2 separate regions of the Homo sapiens genome follow, and region 2 is linked to region 1. The links come from fine-mapping of genetic effects on gene expression. A gene starts in region 1. The other region holds a variant in brackets. All regions are shown on one strand. Distances are from middle to middle. Region 1 holds the start of ZNF384 (zinc finger protein 384). Region 2 holds the start of ING4 (inhibitor of growth family member 4).

What was found. PIP is the estimated chance that this variant, and not a neighbour inherited with it, causes the effect.
Region 2: its variant is fine-mapped to the expression of ZNF384 in monocytes (BLUEPRINT, PIP 0.95).

What each region holds. Positions count from the first base shown.
Region 1 is chr12:6,683,047-6,692,399 of GRCh38, forward strand. ZNF384 (zinc finger protein 384) reads right to left here and starts at 6,329. Exons shown (of 12, transcript NM_001385745.1): 1 at 6,052-6,329; 2 at 5,121-5,180. It also overlaps a transcript of PIANP not described here. RefSeq lists silencers at 6,178-6,287, 6,368-6,447 and an enhancer at 6,181-6,807.
Region 2 is chr12:6,659,879-6,669,444 of GRCh38, forward strand. ING4 (inhibitor of growth family member 4) reads right to left here and starts at 3,241. Exons shown (of 8, transcript NM_016162.4): 1 at 3,187-3,241. The coding sequence starts at 3,223. ZNF384 (zinc finger protein 384) reads right to left here. Exons shown (of 12, transcript NM_001385745.1): 11 at 9,153-9,311; 12 at 6,599-8,237. The coding sequence ends at 7,836. RefSeq lists an enhancer at 3,212-3,271. The variant TTTTTTTTTG/T (reference allele first, on the strand shown) is at 5,371.

The sequences.
Region 1 (9,353 bases):
TTGGGAGGCTGAGGCAGGTGGATCACTTGAGGTCAGGACTTTGAGACCAGCCTGGTCAACATGGTGAAACCCCATCTCTACTAAAAATACAAAAATTAGCCAGGCATGGTGGCACACGCCTGTAATCCCAGCTACTCAGGAGGCTGCGGCAGGAGAATTGCTTGAACCCAGGAGGTGGAGGTTGCAGCGAGCCGAGATCTAACCACTGCACTGCAGCCTGGGCAACAGAGCAAGACTGTCTCAAAAAAAAAATAAAATAAAATAAAAAAGATTAAAAATAATAATTAGGAGGGAGAATAAACGAAAGAAAGGGCCAATGTATAATTTTCCCAAAAGAATCAAGGAAGTTGGCTGGGTGTGGTGGCTCATGCCTGTAATCCTAACACTTTGGGAGGGCGAGGTAGGTGGGTCACTTGAGCTCAGGAGTTCAAGATCACCCTGGCCAACACGGCAAAACCCCATCTCTAATAAAAATACAAAAATTAGCAAGGTGTGGTGGCACACACCTGTAGTCCCAGCTACTTGGGAGGCTGAGGCAGGAGAATCACCTGAGTGCAGTAAGTCGAGATTGCACCACCACAGTCCAGCCTGGGTGACAGAGCAAGACCCTGTCTCAAAAAAAAAAAAAAAAAAAAAGAATCAAGGAAGTAAAGTAAATGCACTATGGATGTGAAAACGTAGGAAGGAGGAGGCTGAGCACGGTGGCTCATGCCTGCAATCCCAGCACTTTGGGAGGCCAAGGCAGGTGGATCACAAGGTCAGAAGTTCAAGACCAGTCTGGCCAAGATGGTGAAACCTTGTCTCTACTGAAAGTACAAATATTAGCCAGGCATGGTGGCGCACGCCTGTAGTCCCAGCTATTCAGGAGGCTGAGAAAGGAGAATCACCTGAACCTGGGAGGTGGAGGTTGCAGTGTGCCAAGATCGCACCACTGCACTCGAGCCTGGGCAACAGAGTGAGAATCCGTCTCAAAAAAAAAAACTGGTGGACAATATCACCACTATCATTATCATTAAAACTTATTAAGCACTTATTGTGTTCAAGGTAGTGTTCTAAGCACTTTACAACTACTACATCATTTAGTCCCTGCAACAATGAGGTAGGTACTGTAATTCCCATTTGAAATGAGGAAACTGGAGGCACAGAGTCCAACAGTAAATAGCAAAGCAGGAATGTGAATCCAGGCACCAAAGGGCAAGTTAAGGAAAGGGGTTCTACAAGGAACCAAAACCATATAACTGTAGTACACACTTTCTGATGTTATGGCTTGATCCAGGAAATAAAATTTAGAATATTTCCAGGAATGAACTATTTTCCAGCTAGTTCTCAAAAAATGTTTTCAAAATTGAAGTTTTTGATAACAGCAAAATGACATGCAGTTCAAGGTCATATTCCTTATTCTGTGAAACCTCACTTAGCTACCAAGATAACTTACTTTAGGATGACAGAGCCTGAATAAAGAGGCCGGACTTTACAAAGGAAAATAAATAAAAAGCCCCTCCACTTACTTGGATGCCTAGTTTATTGCATCCAATAAACTGGTGTGTCTGGTCCAAGGACAAGACACTACATATGCGTTACCAGCTTCCGATAAATAGGTCAGCCCAAAAGGGAGACCACAGAGAGAACTGCTCATCCAACTATAAGCAACCTTTACCAGCAAAATGACACCTGAGAAATGCTATGCCACTGTGCTACTGATGAGGCTGACTTCATCTTTGTACTCCTGAAATGAGATCAATGGAGAGCTAAGAATCAAAACTATTGCTAGAATACAATGTAAATGGCGCCCCCTAGAGTTGTGTAACAGGGCGTTCTGGGGCCAGATCACTCAAATATCTGCTTACTGTCTGTTTTACCGCTTACTCTATCTTTCGTGGAGGAAATTTCTCCAAATCATCCCAACATTCAATCAGGCACATATCAACATTCTTATCACCCAAAGAAGCCCACTGATGTTACACAGAAAACTCATGTCTACACAGAGAGTGCCAATTTTAATGATTATGCCTATATATTTAAAGAAAGTACTTTGGGAGGCCAAAGTAAGAGAATCACTTGAGCCCAGGAATTCAAGAACAGTCTGGGCAAAATAGGGAGACCCTGTATCTACAAAAAATTAAAAAAGTAGCCGGGCATGGTGGCTCACACCTGTAGTCCCAGTTACTTGGGAGGCTGAGGCAGGAGGATTGCTTGAGCCCAGGAAGTCGAGGCTGCAGTCAGCCATTATCACGCCACTGCACTCCAGTCTGGCCAAAAGAGTGAGACCCTGTCTCAAAAAGAAAAAAAGAAAAAGAAATAGAAAGGAAAGAAAAAACAGAAGAGAAGGAAAGATATAATTTGGTGGAAAGAAAAATGCTGGCAGGCTGAAAATCTGGGTTCTCATATCAACTTTACTATTGCACCAAGCCTCAACTGTTCTGTTAATAGGAAGGGAGGTTTACTGCTGGGCGAGGTGGCTCACACCTGTAATCCTAGCACTTTGGGAGGCCGAGGCAGGTGGACTGCCTGAGCTTAGGAGTTCAAGACCAGCCTGGGCAACATGGTGAAATCCCATCTCTACTAAAATACAAAAAATTAGCTGGGCATGGTGGCATGCGCCTGTAATCCCAACTACTCAGGAGGCTGAGACAGGGAATTGCCTGAACCTGGGAGGTGGAGTGGAGGTTGCAGTGAAAGGAGATCAGACCACTGCACTCCAGCCTGGGCGACAGAGCGAGACTCAGTCTCAAAAAAAAAAAAAAAAAAAAAAAAAGAAGGCAGGTTTACTCTAATTAAGTTGGAGAGTAATTTTCTCTTAAGAGACACAAGGAACTACATATTCCTTCTCCAATCTCAAATCTCAGAAGCCCTCAGGAGATAAAGAAGAGAGACACTATCAAGTATTAATAATAGTCGTGAAACACGGTAGGACTTGAACTCTTGGCCCAGAGCTTTGTCTATCTGACCACATCCTTCCGTAATGCTACCAACCATCCAGGGATAAAGATGACATGGCCTCCAGCAGGTGTTTTTGGCAGATATGGTGAAGACCACCATCTCTTTCCCAGAACCCACTAATTGTTTTTTTACTGTTGTTTTTTCAAATAAAGCATGATTTTCTTTCCCCAAGAAAACAGCATTCCCTTAACACAACCAACCCTTAGAAAACCATGAAATACACTCATCAAGTTCAGTAGCTAGAGAATGGCCTTGGGAATCAAGACTTCTGAATTCTTTTTTTATGAGACAGAGTCTCATTTTGTTGCCCAGGCTGAAGTGTAATGGCGTGATCTCAGCTCACTGCAACCTCCACCTCCTGGGTTCAAGCAATTCTCCTGCCTCAGCCTCCCAAGTAGCTGGGATTACAGGCGCTTGCCAACACATCTGGATAATTTTTGTATTTCTAGTAGAGACGGGATTTTGCTATGTTGGCCAGGCTGGTCTTGAACTTCTGACCTCAGGTGATCCGCTCTCCTCAGCCTCCCAAAGTGCTGAGATTACAGGCGTAAGCCACCGTGCCCGGCCAAGACTTGTGAATTCTAATTCTAGGTCCTATATCAGTGGATGACTCTTAACTATTTAAGTGGATGAATTAACCATTTTACTAGGTTTCTATCAGGATGGAGGATGGAAGAGGATGAGGCCTGTATAAATAAGTTTGTAAGGCATATGGTGATGAGATAAAGGCAGCACAAAAAAGAGAAAGAATGAAATGCCCCAAGTGCTCCTGAAAAGAAGAGTTACAGAAACACTTCCACAAGATGAGGACTATTAGCGACAATTAGTGAAAATTACATAAGGACTACATAATTACAAAGGAACTACCCAAAAGTAACAAATCTATAGCCTCCGGTTTAGAAATCATCTACAAGTAGCATCAACAAGAAAAAGATGGAAAAAAACAATCAACTTGAATTCAACTACAGAAAGAACTTAAGACGCTATTGAGAAACCATTCCAAAACACACAACTGCAGAAAGGTTACCTTAGCTCAAGACTTGAAATGAAGAAACACAGAGAAAGTTTTTTTTGTTTCTCCAAAAGGAAACAAAATCTCTTTCTCTCAGGGTCTAAAGACATTCAAGAAGGGCCATCCCAGTAGGATGTGACGCTTTCCCGCCAGTATCCATAAACTCTTCCAAGTACAAGTAACTCAGAACAAATGCACCCCAATGTTACTGGGAAACATCATCACACCATACACAAACAAACTAAACAGGACTGCTACCACCACACAGCTGGCAACCTGGGCCAACAGCTTCTAGCCTGGGCACCACCGGACCACTTTACCCTGCATCCTGTGGGAGGGACGGCACGGTGGTTCTCCTTGCCCTGTCTGTTCCACTATAAATGATGGATCTGGGGAATGTGAGGCCAAAATAAATAAATAAGACTGGAGAAGAAGAGATATGTACCCAATATTTAATCAACAACTTGGCTCAGAAACCCACAGGGCATTTTATAAACCAACCTCTGGGATCATAAGTTCTGAACTCAAACTCTTTAGGTCCACTCACTGTCATTTTCAGGCTACCCGAAACTCTTCCAGACCTACTTCTGGAGTCTACTCCGTACAGTTTTATCCACTTCACTCCAGACTAACCATGAAGCAGTTTTTTTTTTCCCCTGAAAATTTCATCTTGCCATACCAAATTCAAATAACCCTGTGTCACAGATTCTAATCACTCCACAGACCCACTTCTAACACTCCACTGGACTATTTGGGATAGGAACTCCATTCTAAACTCAGCTCTGCTTGTTCCAGACACAGGAAAGCAATTCCATAAGGACTATATTGGCATTTAGGGTCTTTGTGTCCCAAAGCAGAATAAAGATTTCCCCTTTGGACACAAGGCAACACTATTCAGTGGCTTCACCTGAGCATTTCATATTTCATTCCTGATGAGCATTAGTAGGAATGGAAAGTGATGGGGGATAGCGCCAACTTTTTACACAAAAACTTCCTGACCCTCAAGAGATAATAGAAAAAAACTGATTTCTCTCCACAACAATCTCAGCATTACAATTGCTATTACTTTAAGTATTCTATCACATTGTGAAACACACACACGCCCCATTTGGTTGTGACCCCTTCTCCCCCAAAACCAGAAAAGCCATTAACCCAAAAATCATCTTACCCTCTCTCTCTCTTCCTCCTGCCGTCTTATTCCTTCTCCTTTCCAGGGCTCCTGAACTTTCTGTAAACAAATTGTCTAGGTTACAGGGGCCAGGCAGGGTGCAGCCACCAGAGAACTGTGGAGAACCTCAGGAATTATTTGTCAGCAGTCAGTCTGGAAGGCAGGCAGACCCCCCAGCCAGCAATCCAAAGACGGGTGGATATAATAACAGCAGTCTAGTGCTACCCTCTACGTGGATACAAGAGAAATAAATCCAATTCCCAGAAACTAAGACGAATTCTATCACCAGCGTTTGGGTTTCACTCCTAGGCTCAGAGACTGGTCCTTGTTCGTTCCCAGGCCACAGGTAACCAGGGGTCAGAGAACATTAGAGATGGAGGAGGAGGAGGGTCTGTGCCCCTGAGGAGTGGCTTCAGAAGGCAAAGCTGAGGGCTGGGGGATGCACAAGACCTTGTGGCAGGCACAGTGCCAGTTCAGGCCCAGCCACTTCCTCTAGCCTTCCCCCCACTTCTTCGAGGACTTCGCCCCCTGCCTACCCGAGGCCTTGTGCCAAGAAGTACCTCCCTCAGCCTGCACCGTGGTCTATCTACTGGAGACCCCAGCTGTCCCCTCAAAACCTTCGCTCCCCTGAGACAGTTCCTGGGAGCCTTCTCCTGATGTCGTCCCCTACCCCTTTCTCAAAGACCCTTCCTTGGGACGTCCCTCCTTCCCCTCCAGGGAGCTGAACTCTGCCACCCACCAGACAGGCACCCGCCCCCTAAACCCCCCCATTCCTTCCCATCGCCCGCTCCTCCACAACCACTTCCGGTTCCGGGACGGACACACACACAGTCACATCGTGGACCCCCCCTTCCCCGCCTGCCCAAGGAAAAGGGGAGGGGGGAGGAGCAAGCAGCTTGGCGCGCGCCGGCTGTAGCGGCGCGAGACTCACCGGGCGGCGACGGCTGCGGCGGCGCCAGAGCCTGAGCCAGGGCGCGGGAGGGGCGGCGTTTGCTGGGAAAGGAGGGAGCCGAGGAGGGTGGGAGGACCAGGAAGGGGCGAGGGAGGGGAAAAAGCGCAAGGCGCAGCGCGCGGGCACGCACTTCTGGAGCGAGACAGACCCACACACTCACACGCACGGAACGCGCGCGAGACACCCGCAGGGCGGGGGCGCGAGGTAGTGGGTGGCCCCCCCTCCTTGCTGCCCTCCCCTTGCACTCACCCGGAAGTGGTGCTGCAGCTCGTGCTCCCGCGAACCCCAGTTCCTCCACGCCCCCCTCCCTCCCCCCAACAGGCTCAGAGAAGAGCTCTGCGGAGAGAAGGCGGGAGCGCCGGAAACGAAAAGGGGGGAGGGAGGGAAATAGCAATGTAGGGGGGGCGCTAATGGAGAAAGAGGGGCGTGCAGAAGCCGAGTCACTTCCGGGAGTGGCTGGAACACTTCCGGCGCCGCTAGCGCTGCGAGATATTCAGGGCAGAAGTTACGATAACTCGGGGCGGAAATAGCTTCTGCCCAGCGACTGGGAAGAGGGGATGTGACGCTATAGCGGAAGTGAAGGCGGGTTCCGCTAGGGGCAAAAGCTGAAACCGGAGGACTCCGGCCCTGAGCTTCCGGAAGGGACATCTGGGGAAGGTGGGGGGGTGGAAACGCGACAGGTTCATGAATTATCCATCAAGGTAGGAGAGGAGGTGTGGGTTCTTCAGATGCTGGGACCCCGTTTCTCTTCCCTCTGGATGTTGAATAAGCTGATGTAGGAAATTACCATTATTTTTTCTGATACCCCCAAGAATGTCTCAATGCTTTGAATATGCGGGAAAGGACTAGGACGTATCCTTGTTTTTCGGAGGTCCCTACTTAGGTCCAGTTAGAAACTCTCCCAGCCATCAAAATCTGTCTCTCTGACACATCCCTTACTTTACTTTGGTCTTTTCTTGTTGCCCATACCCACATCTCTATCCCCTTACCCTGTTTTACTTAAATATAGCACTTATTACTGCCTGATTTATTGTTTGCTGTCCACCTCTCCCAACTAAAATATTGGCTACAGGACAGCGAGGACTGAATTGTTCGTTGCTGTATCCTCATATCCTGGCAGTTAAGTGGTCTGTAAACTCTTGTTGTATAAATGAACTATAGTTCATTATGAACACCTAAATATGAACCCTTTTAGGAAGCCTTGCCTGATTGCTCCAACCTGTAATGGTCCCTCTGAATTCCCATAGTATTTAATACGTACCTTTTATTGATATTTTAACTATTTCATACATGTGATTCCCCAGCAAGATTGTCAGTTCCTCATGGAAGGAAATACGTTGCTTTGCTGAGCATATAGTAAATGCTGAATATGTTGTTTGAACAAGTGAATGCTGTTACAAGCGTGCACCCCGACCTGGCCAGAATCCCCCTGGGCTCAGCTCTAAGCAGAACTGAGGTCTCTCCTACTAATGGTAAGAGCCTCTTGCTGAGAAAAATAACCTTTTTTTTTTTTTTTTAAAGACAGAGTGTCACCCTGTTGCCCAGGCTGGAGTGCATTGGCGCCATCTTGGCTCACTGCAACCTCTGCCTCCTGGGTTCAAGCGATTCTCCTGCCTCAGCCTCCCTAGCAGCTGGGATGACAGTCGCCCGCCACCACACCGGGCTAATTTTTTGTATCTTTAGTGGAGTCGGGGTTTCACCATGTTGGCCAGGCTGGTCTCGAACTCCTGACCTCAACTGATCCACCTGTCTCAGCCTCCCAAAGTGCTGGGATTACAGGCGTGAGCCACCACGCCCAGCAAAAAATAACTTTAACAGAAATAATTATAATGCTCATTTTACAGATAATGAAAATAAGCCTGTAAAGGATTAAGTGATTTTTTCCCCCAAGGTCAAAGCAAGAAAGTAACAAAGTACGCCTTTAAATATTTAAATAGATGATGCATTTCATTGTAATTGTAGTTTGTATCTTTTTTAAAGTGTCTGTTCCCTTTATCACATTTTTGGGCTCAGCACTCAGTCTCTGTTGACTGAGTAGCAACAGTTGGCAGAGTAAGGATTTTAAGGGCTCAGATGTGACCAGACCTATTGCTGTGTGGGTTAGAGATTGCTGATTCAAGAAACCTTGACATCAGGGGCTGGTATTGAAAGGTGGGAACAGGAAATAGTAATAATAGCTATACGTTCTGGTTCTCCTCCTGCTCTTTTCCTATTTATGTTAACTGGGCACTTCCTGGGTCTCCGTGTCTCCGTCAGCCCTATTCCTGCCCTTGCTATAAGAAGGAAGTTTCCCAGCTACTTGGGAGGTTGAGGCAGGAGAATCACTTGAACCTGGGAGGCGAAGGTTGTGGTGAGCCAAGATTGCGCCATTGCACTCCAGCCTGGGCAACAAGAACTAAACTCCATCTCAAAAAAAAAAAAAAGAAGTTTCAAGTGCTTTGAACTCCTTAGGGAAAAGCTTTAGAACAATAAATGTGGGGCGTAGGGGGAGGAGGGCTGTTAATTTTAGCCTGGGGTTCTCCAGCTGGCATACTGTTTCCATCTTGAATCACTTCCACACCCTAAGCTGTGCCTGGGAGATCCCTCCCTCCTCCTGGGGGCTTCCCCATTCCCTGGTTTGGTCTAAGCCGCAGTGGCAAGCATTCCAGAAAAATGCTAAGAGAAGCCTGGCTGAGTCATTTGATGCACAGCTCAGGAGGCAAAGAAAGGATGGTGATGAGACGCTGGTTCCAGTGGTGGCTGTGATGTGTGACCTCGAAGAACCTTCCAGTTCCCAAAAGGACAGCATGGCCATTGTTTTTTTCTTGGCTAGTGACTCTGCTGCAGCTTTCTGAGGACCTCTCAAAGCCCCACAGTCTCTGTTTCAACTACAGGAGAGAAAAGTTAGGGCTTGCTCCCCAGGGCCTTACGACTCTTCATGGCTAACGTGACAGTGCAGTATCATTTGGGAGAATTTTTTTAGTACAGTTCAGAGTCTGGAACAGTCTCCTTCCTCCTCTGTCTTTCCTGCCTTCTGACTTTCCATGGGGAAAGGAGGACATTTAGGAAGAGGGAACAGGTGAGGATTTCCAGTACCTTGCTGGTGTATTTTAATTTATTTAAATTTAGAGAAACAGTGGTCTAATCAGGCAGTAATTAATTCCCTCTTCATTAGGGGCCTTCATGTTTGCCTTTTGCATATGGATGAGCCACGGGTCACACTGTCCCTTTGAAGAGAGATCCTTGCTGAAGGTGAGAGCCCAGTGTGCTCTCCGGCACTTGAGCTCCTTCCCCTTCTGTGC
Region 2 (9,566 bases), 23 kb before region 1:
TGAGGCAGGACAATTGCTTGAACCAGGGAGGTAGAGGTTGCAGCCCGGGCAAAAGAGCAAGACTGTTTCAAAAAACAAAAAAATTAAAAAAAATAATGTGTAATTAGTTATTTGGTATCTGTCTCCCCAGGCCGAACATGGCTATCATATTCTCTCCTGTTTCCATAGTGTTTAGAATTATGACTTGCAAAGAGCAGGTACTCAGTAAATACTTGAATAAATGCATGAATATTTGTCACCCCAGTACAAGAGAAATCTCTTGCCAAGACTCCACCTAAAACTTTAAAAATGCCTCTACTTGCTGGGCACAGTGGCTCACGCCTGTAATCCCAGCATTCTGGGAGGCCAAGGCAGGTAGATCGCTTGATCTCAGGAGTCTGAGACCAGCCTGGGCAATATGGCCAGATCCTGTCTCTATAAAAATTAAATATATATATAAAAAATAAAAGGCCTGGTACGGTGGCTCATGCCTGTAATCCCAGCACTCTGGGAGGCCAAGGTGGGTGGATCACCTGAGGTTGGGAGTTTGAGACCAGCCTGGCCAACACAGTGAAACCTCATCTCTACTAAAAATACAAAAATTAGCTGGGTATGGTGGCGGGCACTGTAATCCTAGCTACTCAAGAGGCTGAGGCAGGAGAATCACTTGAACCCGGGAGGCAGAGGTTGCAGTGGGCCAAGATCGCACCATTGCGCTCCAGCCTGGGTGACAGAGTGAGACTCTGTCTCAAAAACAAACAAACAAACAGAAAAACTAAAATAAAATAAATAAAAAAAAATAAAATGCCTCTACTGTTTAAACCTACAACTTCAGGTCTGCTACCACCAGTTCACAAGACTGAGTCACTGGTGATTTACCAAATCTAATGGTGTTATTAAGCCTATCCTAAAAAATATCTCTGCAGCAGTTGGCATGATCTTTTCTCCGCTGAGTAACTTTCTTTTCTTTTCTTTTGAGGTGTAGTGTCGCTCTTGTCGCCCAGGCTGGAGTGCAATGGCGCAATCTCAGGTTCAAGGAATTCTTGTGCCTCAGCCTCCCAAGTAGCTGGGATTACAGGCGTCTGCCACCACGCCCAGCTAATTTTTGTATTTTTAGTAGAGACGGGGTTTCACTATGTTAGCCAGGCTGGTCTTGGAACTCCTGACCTAAGGCGATCCACCCATCTCAGCCTCCCAATGTGCTAGGATTATAGGCGTGAGCCACCGCTCCCAGCCTTTTTGTTTTTGTTTTTTTTTTGAGGCGGAGTCTCACTCTGTTGCCCAGGCTGGAGTGCAGTGGCATGATCTCGGCCCACTGCAACCTCCACCTCCCAGGTTCAAGCGATTCTCCTGCCTTAGCCTCCTAAGTAGCTGGGACTACAGGGGCACACCACCACACCTGGCTATTTTTTTTATTTTTAGTAGAGACGGGGTTTCACCATGTTAGCCAGGCTGGTCTCGATCTCCTGACCTCATGATCCGCCTGCCTCAGCCTCCCAAAGTGTTGGGATTACAGGCATGAGCCACCGTGCCTGGCCACCAGCCTTTGTTTTTTTTTTTTTTTTTTTTTTTGAGAGGGACACGGAGTCTTTCTCTGTCACCCAGGCTGGAGTGCAGTGGTATGTATGATCTTAGCTCACTGCAATCTTCACCTGCTGGGTTCAAGTGATTCTCCTGACTCAGCCTCCCAAGTAGCTGGGATTACAGTCACATGCCACCATGCCCAGCTAATTTTTTTTTTTTTTTAAAGTAGAGACTGGGCTTCACCATGTTGGACAGGGTGATCTCAAACTCCTGACCTCAAGTGATCTGCCCGCCTTGGCCTCCCAAAGTGCTGAGATTACAGGCATGAGCTACTGTGCCCAGCCTGTCTACCTCACTTTCTAAGCAGGAAGAAGCCACCTTAGATTCTTCCTTCTCTCTCAACCACTCAGTCATTCAGTCAGTCCTTTCATATTTAACTCCTAAATACTTCTGTAACTCCCTAAAATCAGGTTCTTATCTCTGTCCTGGAATGTTATCACTAATTGATCTCTGTTATCAACAATATCATGCTCCAATTTACCATATATTAGTCATTTTCCTCTATAAAAATCATACTCTACTTTAAAATGCAAACTTCTTCGTTTGGCTTAAAAGACCTTGTCCAATCTAGCCTCAGCCTCTTTCTCCAGTCTCCTTTCTCAATTTCTTACCTTAGATTCATAAATATCAAATACGCTGACCTCTGAGTCATAAATATCAAACACCCTTGACCTTGCCACAAACCCATCACAGTACCTTTGCGGATGCTTTCCCCAACCTGGAATTCCTTTTTTCTCTCCTCACTGGCAAATAACCTTCAAGACCCTATTCAAACATCACCTCCGCTGTAAAGCTTTTCCTACATCCCCAGGTAATTACCCCCCTTTTCTCCAGGGTTGCCTACCAAGTGTCCTTTTTAATGTATTTCCATTATCTCACTTGTCACAGTGTTTTATAATTATTTGCAGAATCTGTTTCCTACTAGATCGTGAGCTTCTTGAGGGCAGGAGCCTTGTCTTACTCATTTTTCTATCCCTAGTGCCTGCCATTATGTCTGACCCATAGCAGGACCTCAATAAATATTTGTTGAATAAATGACTCCGGGCCCTAAAACAAATGTAAGCGCACAGAGCAATAGGCTTTCTGCAGGGGTGGTTTACATAAATCGCATAAACACCAGATTTTCATTTGATGGGAATTAGATCTTTACTCCATGAAGAGAAGCGTTCTAGTTCATCATCTGACAGTGGTCACTCATCACCACCACTCTCAACCCCATGAGAAGCCACTTTTGAGGAAGAATGGAGTGGAGGAGAGGTCTTTACCGCTTCTCCAAATGGCAGTGTGTGATAACGATTCTGAACGACTATGGGGAAAAAAATCTACCGAGGCTGGAGACCCTGGAGAATGGGGGCAGCAACTATCTTCCTGGCCATGCACACTAGCCCTTCAAGACACGTCTCTAACCCCCACACCGCACCCCTCCCTCGTCTACACCCATCAGCGGGGCCTCGATCCTGCTGCCCCGCCCCCTCTTTCTCCGCACCCTCCAATATTTCCTGCCACAGAACCGCTTCATAATTGTGACCTTCTCGTCACTGGAACTTAAGGGCTACAGATCCTCTCATCCCTGATCCCCGCACCACTCTGCAGCCCCGACCCCCACCTCCAGCCTGCTCTTACTGTCCAGATAATGTTCCAAATACATCCCCGCAGCCATCTCGAAGCAAAACAAAGCAACTTCCGATCCGCCCCGGAAGTGACTGTAACGCGACAGGGGCCGAAGCCATTTTGCGGCTAAAGCCTTTCCGCCCTTAAAAGGAGAACTTCCGCCCTTAAAAGGAGAACTTCCGCCCTTAAAGGAGAACTTCCGCCCTTACTATATTACCGCCGGTACACATCCGCCCGACACTGAAACTTTTCCTTTTGCATGGTAGCCACGACCGCCCACAGTGAGGCGGCTGTAGCCCGCTTCCGCCCTTACAGACACCCCAGGACGCGACCGAGACAGGTATGACGTCACTGGAGGTCGCCATTTTGCATTCTCTAGCAAACTTTTTTCCCTCCAAAACGGGAATGTATGGTAATCCGTGCAGGGGTAACTGTTCACTTTAGGCTCATATTGCGTAAACATACCTTCTCAGCAACTGGAAGATCCAACTTTTTTTCCCTCTTTTGCAGAATGACTTTTTTCAAGCCAGTTAGTTTCTTAAGGAAGTTGGGGAAGAGTATCAGGCCTTGAGACATTTAAACCGTCTGAATTTCTATTCACTCACACAAACACCATCTCCCCCAGCATTATTTTTTTAACTTGAGAAAGATGATCACCTTTCTACTTATAAATACAAAGAATGACTCATAATAAAGCTATAATTCTGCACATCTTTTGTCAGAGCTCCTGTACGTTACACTAGAATACACTTTCACATATAAAATATTACTTCCTGCCTTGCCCTCTTGCTTTTTTTTTTTTTTTTTTGAGACAGAATTTTCACTCTTATTGCCCAGGCTGGAGTGCAATGGCGTGATCATGGCTCACCGCAACCTCCACCTCCCGGGTTCAAGTGATTCTTCTGTCTCAGCCTCCCGTGTAGCTGGGATTACAGGTATGCACCATCACGCCAGACTAATTTTGTATTTTTAGTAGAGATGGGGTTTCTCCATGTCGGTGAGGCTGGTCTCGAACTTCCGACCTCAGGTGATCTGCCCACCTCAGCCTCTCAAAGTGCTGGGATTACAGGTGCGAACCACTGTGCCTGGCCCCTCTTGCTACTCTCTAAGGGGGAAATCTCGTGTTTTTGTTTTCCTTTTGTTTATATGTGATGTTAGCATCATAATTCTGAAGGGATTGAGGGATGCAGCAGTATCACTACTGGGCTAGTTGGCTAGTTAGTTGCTAGCCATCACTCTAGTCAGCTATGGTAGAGTGATTTCTATGGTTTTCATCAGAATGGGAAGCAGTCAAGGGTATGAGAGGCTGCCAACACACTAGGCTGTCAACACACTGCCAACACAAAGGCCATAACCTAATAGTGGTGTTAGTAAGATAGTATTTTAGAGATAGCTGCCACCCCTCACACTTTTCGTACCCTCACACATCCTTCATAAGAATTACCAATGTCTTACGGCAAGTTTTTAAAGAGACAGACTTTCAGCTATATAATTTCTACCAAATATGTGGAGAAGAGGAACTTCCAACCCGGGGCGGATTGGAAGTTGCTTTGTTTTGCTTCGAGATGGATGCAGGGATGTATTTGAAACATTATCTGGACAGTAAGAGCAGGCTGGAGGAGGGGGTTCAGGGGCTGTAGAGTGGTGGGGGTATCAGAGCTGAAAGGATCTGTAGCCTGTAAACCCCAGGTTTACTAGTGTGCAGGTAGTAAGATACAGCAATAGAATCCGGGAAACTGCTCTAATTACAAAAGTCATGCTTTTCGGTAACTTGATCTCTGTGCCTGTTTTACTATACAATGAGACTACTACCTCCCTCATAGGGTTGTTGGAATAAGTGAGTGTGAGTGTATCCATAAAAAGAGTAGATTCTAGTTCTAATACTGGTGATGAAGTTAGGGCCATTAGGGCCTTTTCAAGAGTTGGTGAGAGTGGGAGGAAAAAGCAGTAAATATGCAGGGAGCTAAGAAACATTGGCATATTTGGTCATATGTGATACATTCATTGGTATTACACAACATATTGAGACACCATCTTAGGTGCCCACACAGGATATCTAGCACTAAATTAAGTGGGCTTTATTTATCCCAGCCCAACTACATAACAAGTACTATTGGCCAGCAGTCCCAGAGTTCTCAGGATGTGGGAGCTTGGTCACAACTTTCACAACTTTTTCGGTGCTTAAAGCAAGGTTTT[TTTTTTTTTG/T]TTTTTTTTTTTTTTTCCAGACAGAATCTCGCTCTGTGGCCCAGGCTGGAGTGCAGTGGTGCAATCCCGGCTCACTGCAACCTCCGCCTCCCAGGTTCAAGTCATTCTTCTGCCTCAGCCTGCAGCTGGGACTACAGGCGCGTGCCACCACACCTGGCTAATTTTTGTATTTTTATTTTACTTTTTTGAGAGAGAGTCTCACTCTGTCGCCCAGGCTGGAGTGCCATGGCACGATCTTGGCTCACTGCAACCTCTGCCTCCTAGGTTCAAAAGATTCTCCTGCCTCAGCCTCCTGAGTAGCTGGGATTGCAGGCGCCCACCACTATGCCTAGCTTATTTTTTGTATTTTCAGTAGAGACGGGGTTTCACCATACTGGCCAGGCTGGTCTCGAGCTCCTAACCTCATGATTCACCTGTCTCGGCCTCCCAAAGTGCTGGGATTACAGGCGTGAGCCACCGTGCACGGCCATCAATTTTTGTATTTTTAGTAGAGATGGGGTTTCACCATGTTGGCCAGGCTGGTCTTGAACTCCTGACGTCAAGTAGTCTGCCTGCCTCGCCCTCCCAAAATGCTGGGATTACAGGCGTGAGCCACCGCACCCAGCCTTAAAGCAAGTTACTTAATTCTCAAAAAAGGTATCTTCAGAGTTATCTAGTCCAATCCCTTCACTAACAGTTGAAGAAGCACCCTGGCCAACACTGGTTGATGGTAGGCAAAGGGCTGAAGTCCAGGTTTCATGACCACATTCTACTCCATAGTACTACAGCTCTCCTGCATAAATCAATCTTGCACCCCTTAACCGGTTATGATTTCCACAAGGTAACAAATACACATATGTATACACATTGCCAACTGCAAGCCCCTCTTCCACAGACTCAGGCAGGAGTGTAGGTCCTTTCAAGAGGCTTCCATTTTTCTTCCATAGGGAGCTTAGCTGTTTTGTTAACACATAACCAAAGCCTTGCTCTCACATATTTAGGCAATGCAATCCCCATGACAGAATGTGTATGTAGAAGTCCTCATAAACCAGGATTTCACTGGAGACATCATGAAACTGTACCCTTCCATGACTGGAGAATTGCACAAATGGGGCATCATCACACAAGCACTTGTTCATCACACACACACTCTGGTATAAATCCTCAGTACTGTTCTTGGACATCTCCCCAAATACCTTTTCCGCATGCTCGCTCACATCAGTAGCTCCACTGCCTCTGATCCTTTTACATGAATTTATTTCTATACAATGTTCTAAAAACACCCCTTGGTTTGTACATAAGTTTTTTTCTTTTTTTCTTCATTTTTAAATTACTTTATAACAACTGGTTTCCTGATTTTTTTTTTAATTTCCTTTCCTCTGAAATCTGCCATGATTTAAAAAAAAAAAAAAAAGACAAAAAGAAAAATGCTGTGGCTAGAGGACAGGGGTGGAGAGAGGGAAAAAAAGGACAAAAATAAACAAAACATCAAATATGAAAATTCTCAGAGATAATGCATTTATAAACACAGAAATGGTTACAACAAAGATGGCCGTGATGAGTGAGTATAATATATTTATATATATATATTTATATATAAATCCGTGTCCGGCATCTGACTGTGGCACCTAGGGAGCTAAGTCCAGTCCTTGCGTTTGCCTTGAACTCTCCCTTCTCCGCAACACCCCTGTTTTGGAGTTTCACAGATAACACAAAGCCTCCCACAGCTCCTTGGGGGTGGGTTGGGGAGACTGAGAGTATAGGGTCTTTGTAGGCAGAGAAGGAGAGAGGCTTCAAGGAAATCCGTAAAACCATAACACACACTTCTAAGCCACCTGTGACCAACTTGGGAATTTCTGGCCCCTTGGGGACCACATCTCAGCCCTTGCCCCCTTCAAATAAAAGGAGGTCTAGCCCCTACCCCAAATCTCCTTCTACCAGCAGTCAATAGGAAGCAAAGTGAGACGATGTAGGGGAAGAAATGGCTCTCAGGGACTGAGGCATTTGAGAAACCTCTGTTCTTTTGCAGGCAAGAATAGAACAAGAGGCTGGTTGCATTTGGGGCTCCCTTTTCTCTGTTATCTGGGAGGGCCAGCCTCTAGTCTTACATCAGCCCAAACTTTGAGGATAAGGAGGGTAAGGATAGGGTAAGTGGCCACACTGGACAAGGTTCTATGAGGTCATAGCAAATCCTTCCCTTGAGCACCGACCCCCAGTTTTAGAAGCTTTGCTTGGGAGGGGAGGCTGCTGGATGACACCATCAGCTCAGTATTCCTTTGCAATCAGGAGGGCTGATGTTCCTTTTGAAGAAGAGTTCAGAAAAAGGATGGTATCCTGTGAAGGAAAGCCGTGACAGAGGCCCAAGGAGATGGAGCCAAGGCCTGTCAAGGAAGAAAAGGACTTTTCCCACCAAGAGTTGGAGAAAGAAGACACCAGGACTACTTCTTCCTCTTCCCAGTGGGTGGCAGCACGGATCTCTAAGAGCTGGCCAGGTGCTCCACCTGGATGGTGCTGGTGGTGACAGTGAGGCAGATGTCCTTATGATGCTCCGCCGTCTTATACGGGGTCAGGTCAAAGGAACACTGGGGTGGAGGGTTGGGATTGCTGTCCCCACCACCCCCACCCTGGGGGGCTGCCCCAGGAGACTGGAAGTGTGGTGGTGGCTGTTGCTGCTGCTGCTGCTGCTGCTGCTGCTGCTGCTGCTGCTGCTGTGATGCCTGGGAGGCCTGGGCCTGGGCCTGGGCTTGAGCCTGAGCCTGAGCCTGGGCTTGAGCTTGAGCCTGGGCCTGGGCCACTGCTGCCGCTGCTGCTGCTGCCTGCACCTGTTGCTGAAGATCAGGCGGGTTGTGTTTGCGCATATGTTTCATAAGGTATGTTTCCTGAGGGAGATGGTAAAAAGAAGTTGAGGGATAAAGAGGAAGGAAAAGAGATTACTTGTAACTAGCACCCCAGGCTCTGATTCTGCTGTAAGCAGAGTAAGCTTTATACTGGTTTTCTGGAGCCAAGACTGAGCAAAACTCAAGTAGCACTTTCAGTGGCTCACTACTGAGAAAAAAAAGAGAGGAACCTTTAGAAGTCACTCAACATTCAACTGGCAAAGGAATGAGCTGCTATTTTTTTCAAAGACCCCTGAATGAAACAACTTTACAACCTTTTCTGGAGTCTCATGGAAAATATCTAACTGGGCCAGGTGCGGTGGCTCACACCTGTAATCCCAGTACTTTGGGAGGCTGAGGTAGGTGGATCACTTGAGGTCAGGAGTTTGAGACCAGCCTGGGCAACATGGTGAAACCCCATGTCTACTAAAAATACAAAAAGTTGCTGGGCATGGCAACATGCACCTGTAATCCCACCTACTTGGGAGGCTGAGGCAGGAGAATCGCTTGAACCCAGGAGGTGGAGGTTACAGTGAGCCGAGCCGAGATCACACCACTGCACTCCAGCCTGGGTGACAGGGCGAGACTGTGTCTCAAAAAGAAAAAAAAAAAAAAAAGAAGAAGAAAATGCCTAACTGAAATCCAGCTCCCCTCAAAATTTCAAGTGGCTTTATTTTGCCTTATGTTTAAGTAAAATGAAGAATTACAGCTTATGCGTCTCTATAGGATTAGGAGATCAGGCATCCCCTAAATTCCTCAGAATGGGTCTAATTAATTTCTGAATATTTACCTGTTCTGCTAAGTTGGAGCTAGGGAGGCAGGGTATTCACTGCAACAGATCTCTACCCAGAAAATGGGGTGAAGTGGACTGTACTCTTAGAGGACTATGAGGAAGGAGAGAAGAAACGGAGCACTCACTGATGTGTATGCCCGACTGCAGATAGTGCAGGTGTACACCTTGGCATGCTTCACTGTGTGCGTAGACAGGTGCACCTCTAGTGAGGCTGCATCCGTGTACGCCCGATGACAGTTGTGGCACTTGAAGGGTTTATCTTTGTTGTGTTGCCGTCTGTGGGACTGAGAAAATTGGGAGAAACCAGAATGAATACATTGTACTCTTTCCTCCTGCCCCCTTGACCTCGATGGAAAGCAAAAAGGTAGGTGTCAGGCCTCCCAGCTTCTCCCTCTATCTGAAGAAAGTAGAAATTGTTTCAAATGAAACTTGAGAAGCTACAGGCTAAGGGTGGAAGCATACCTCATGTAGCACATACCAGGATCCCAAGACAGCTTATGCCCGTCTCACCAGTCCAGTGGTTCTTAAAATGAGGCATG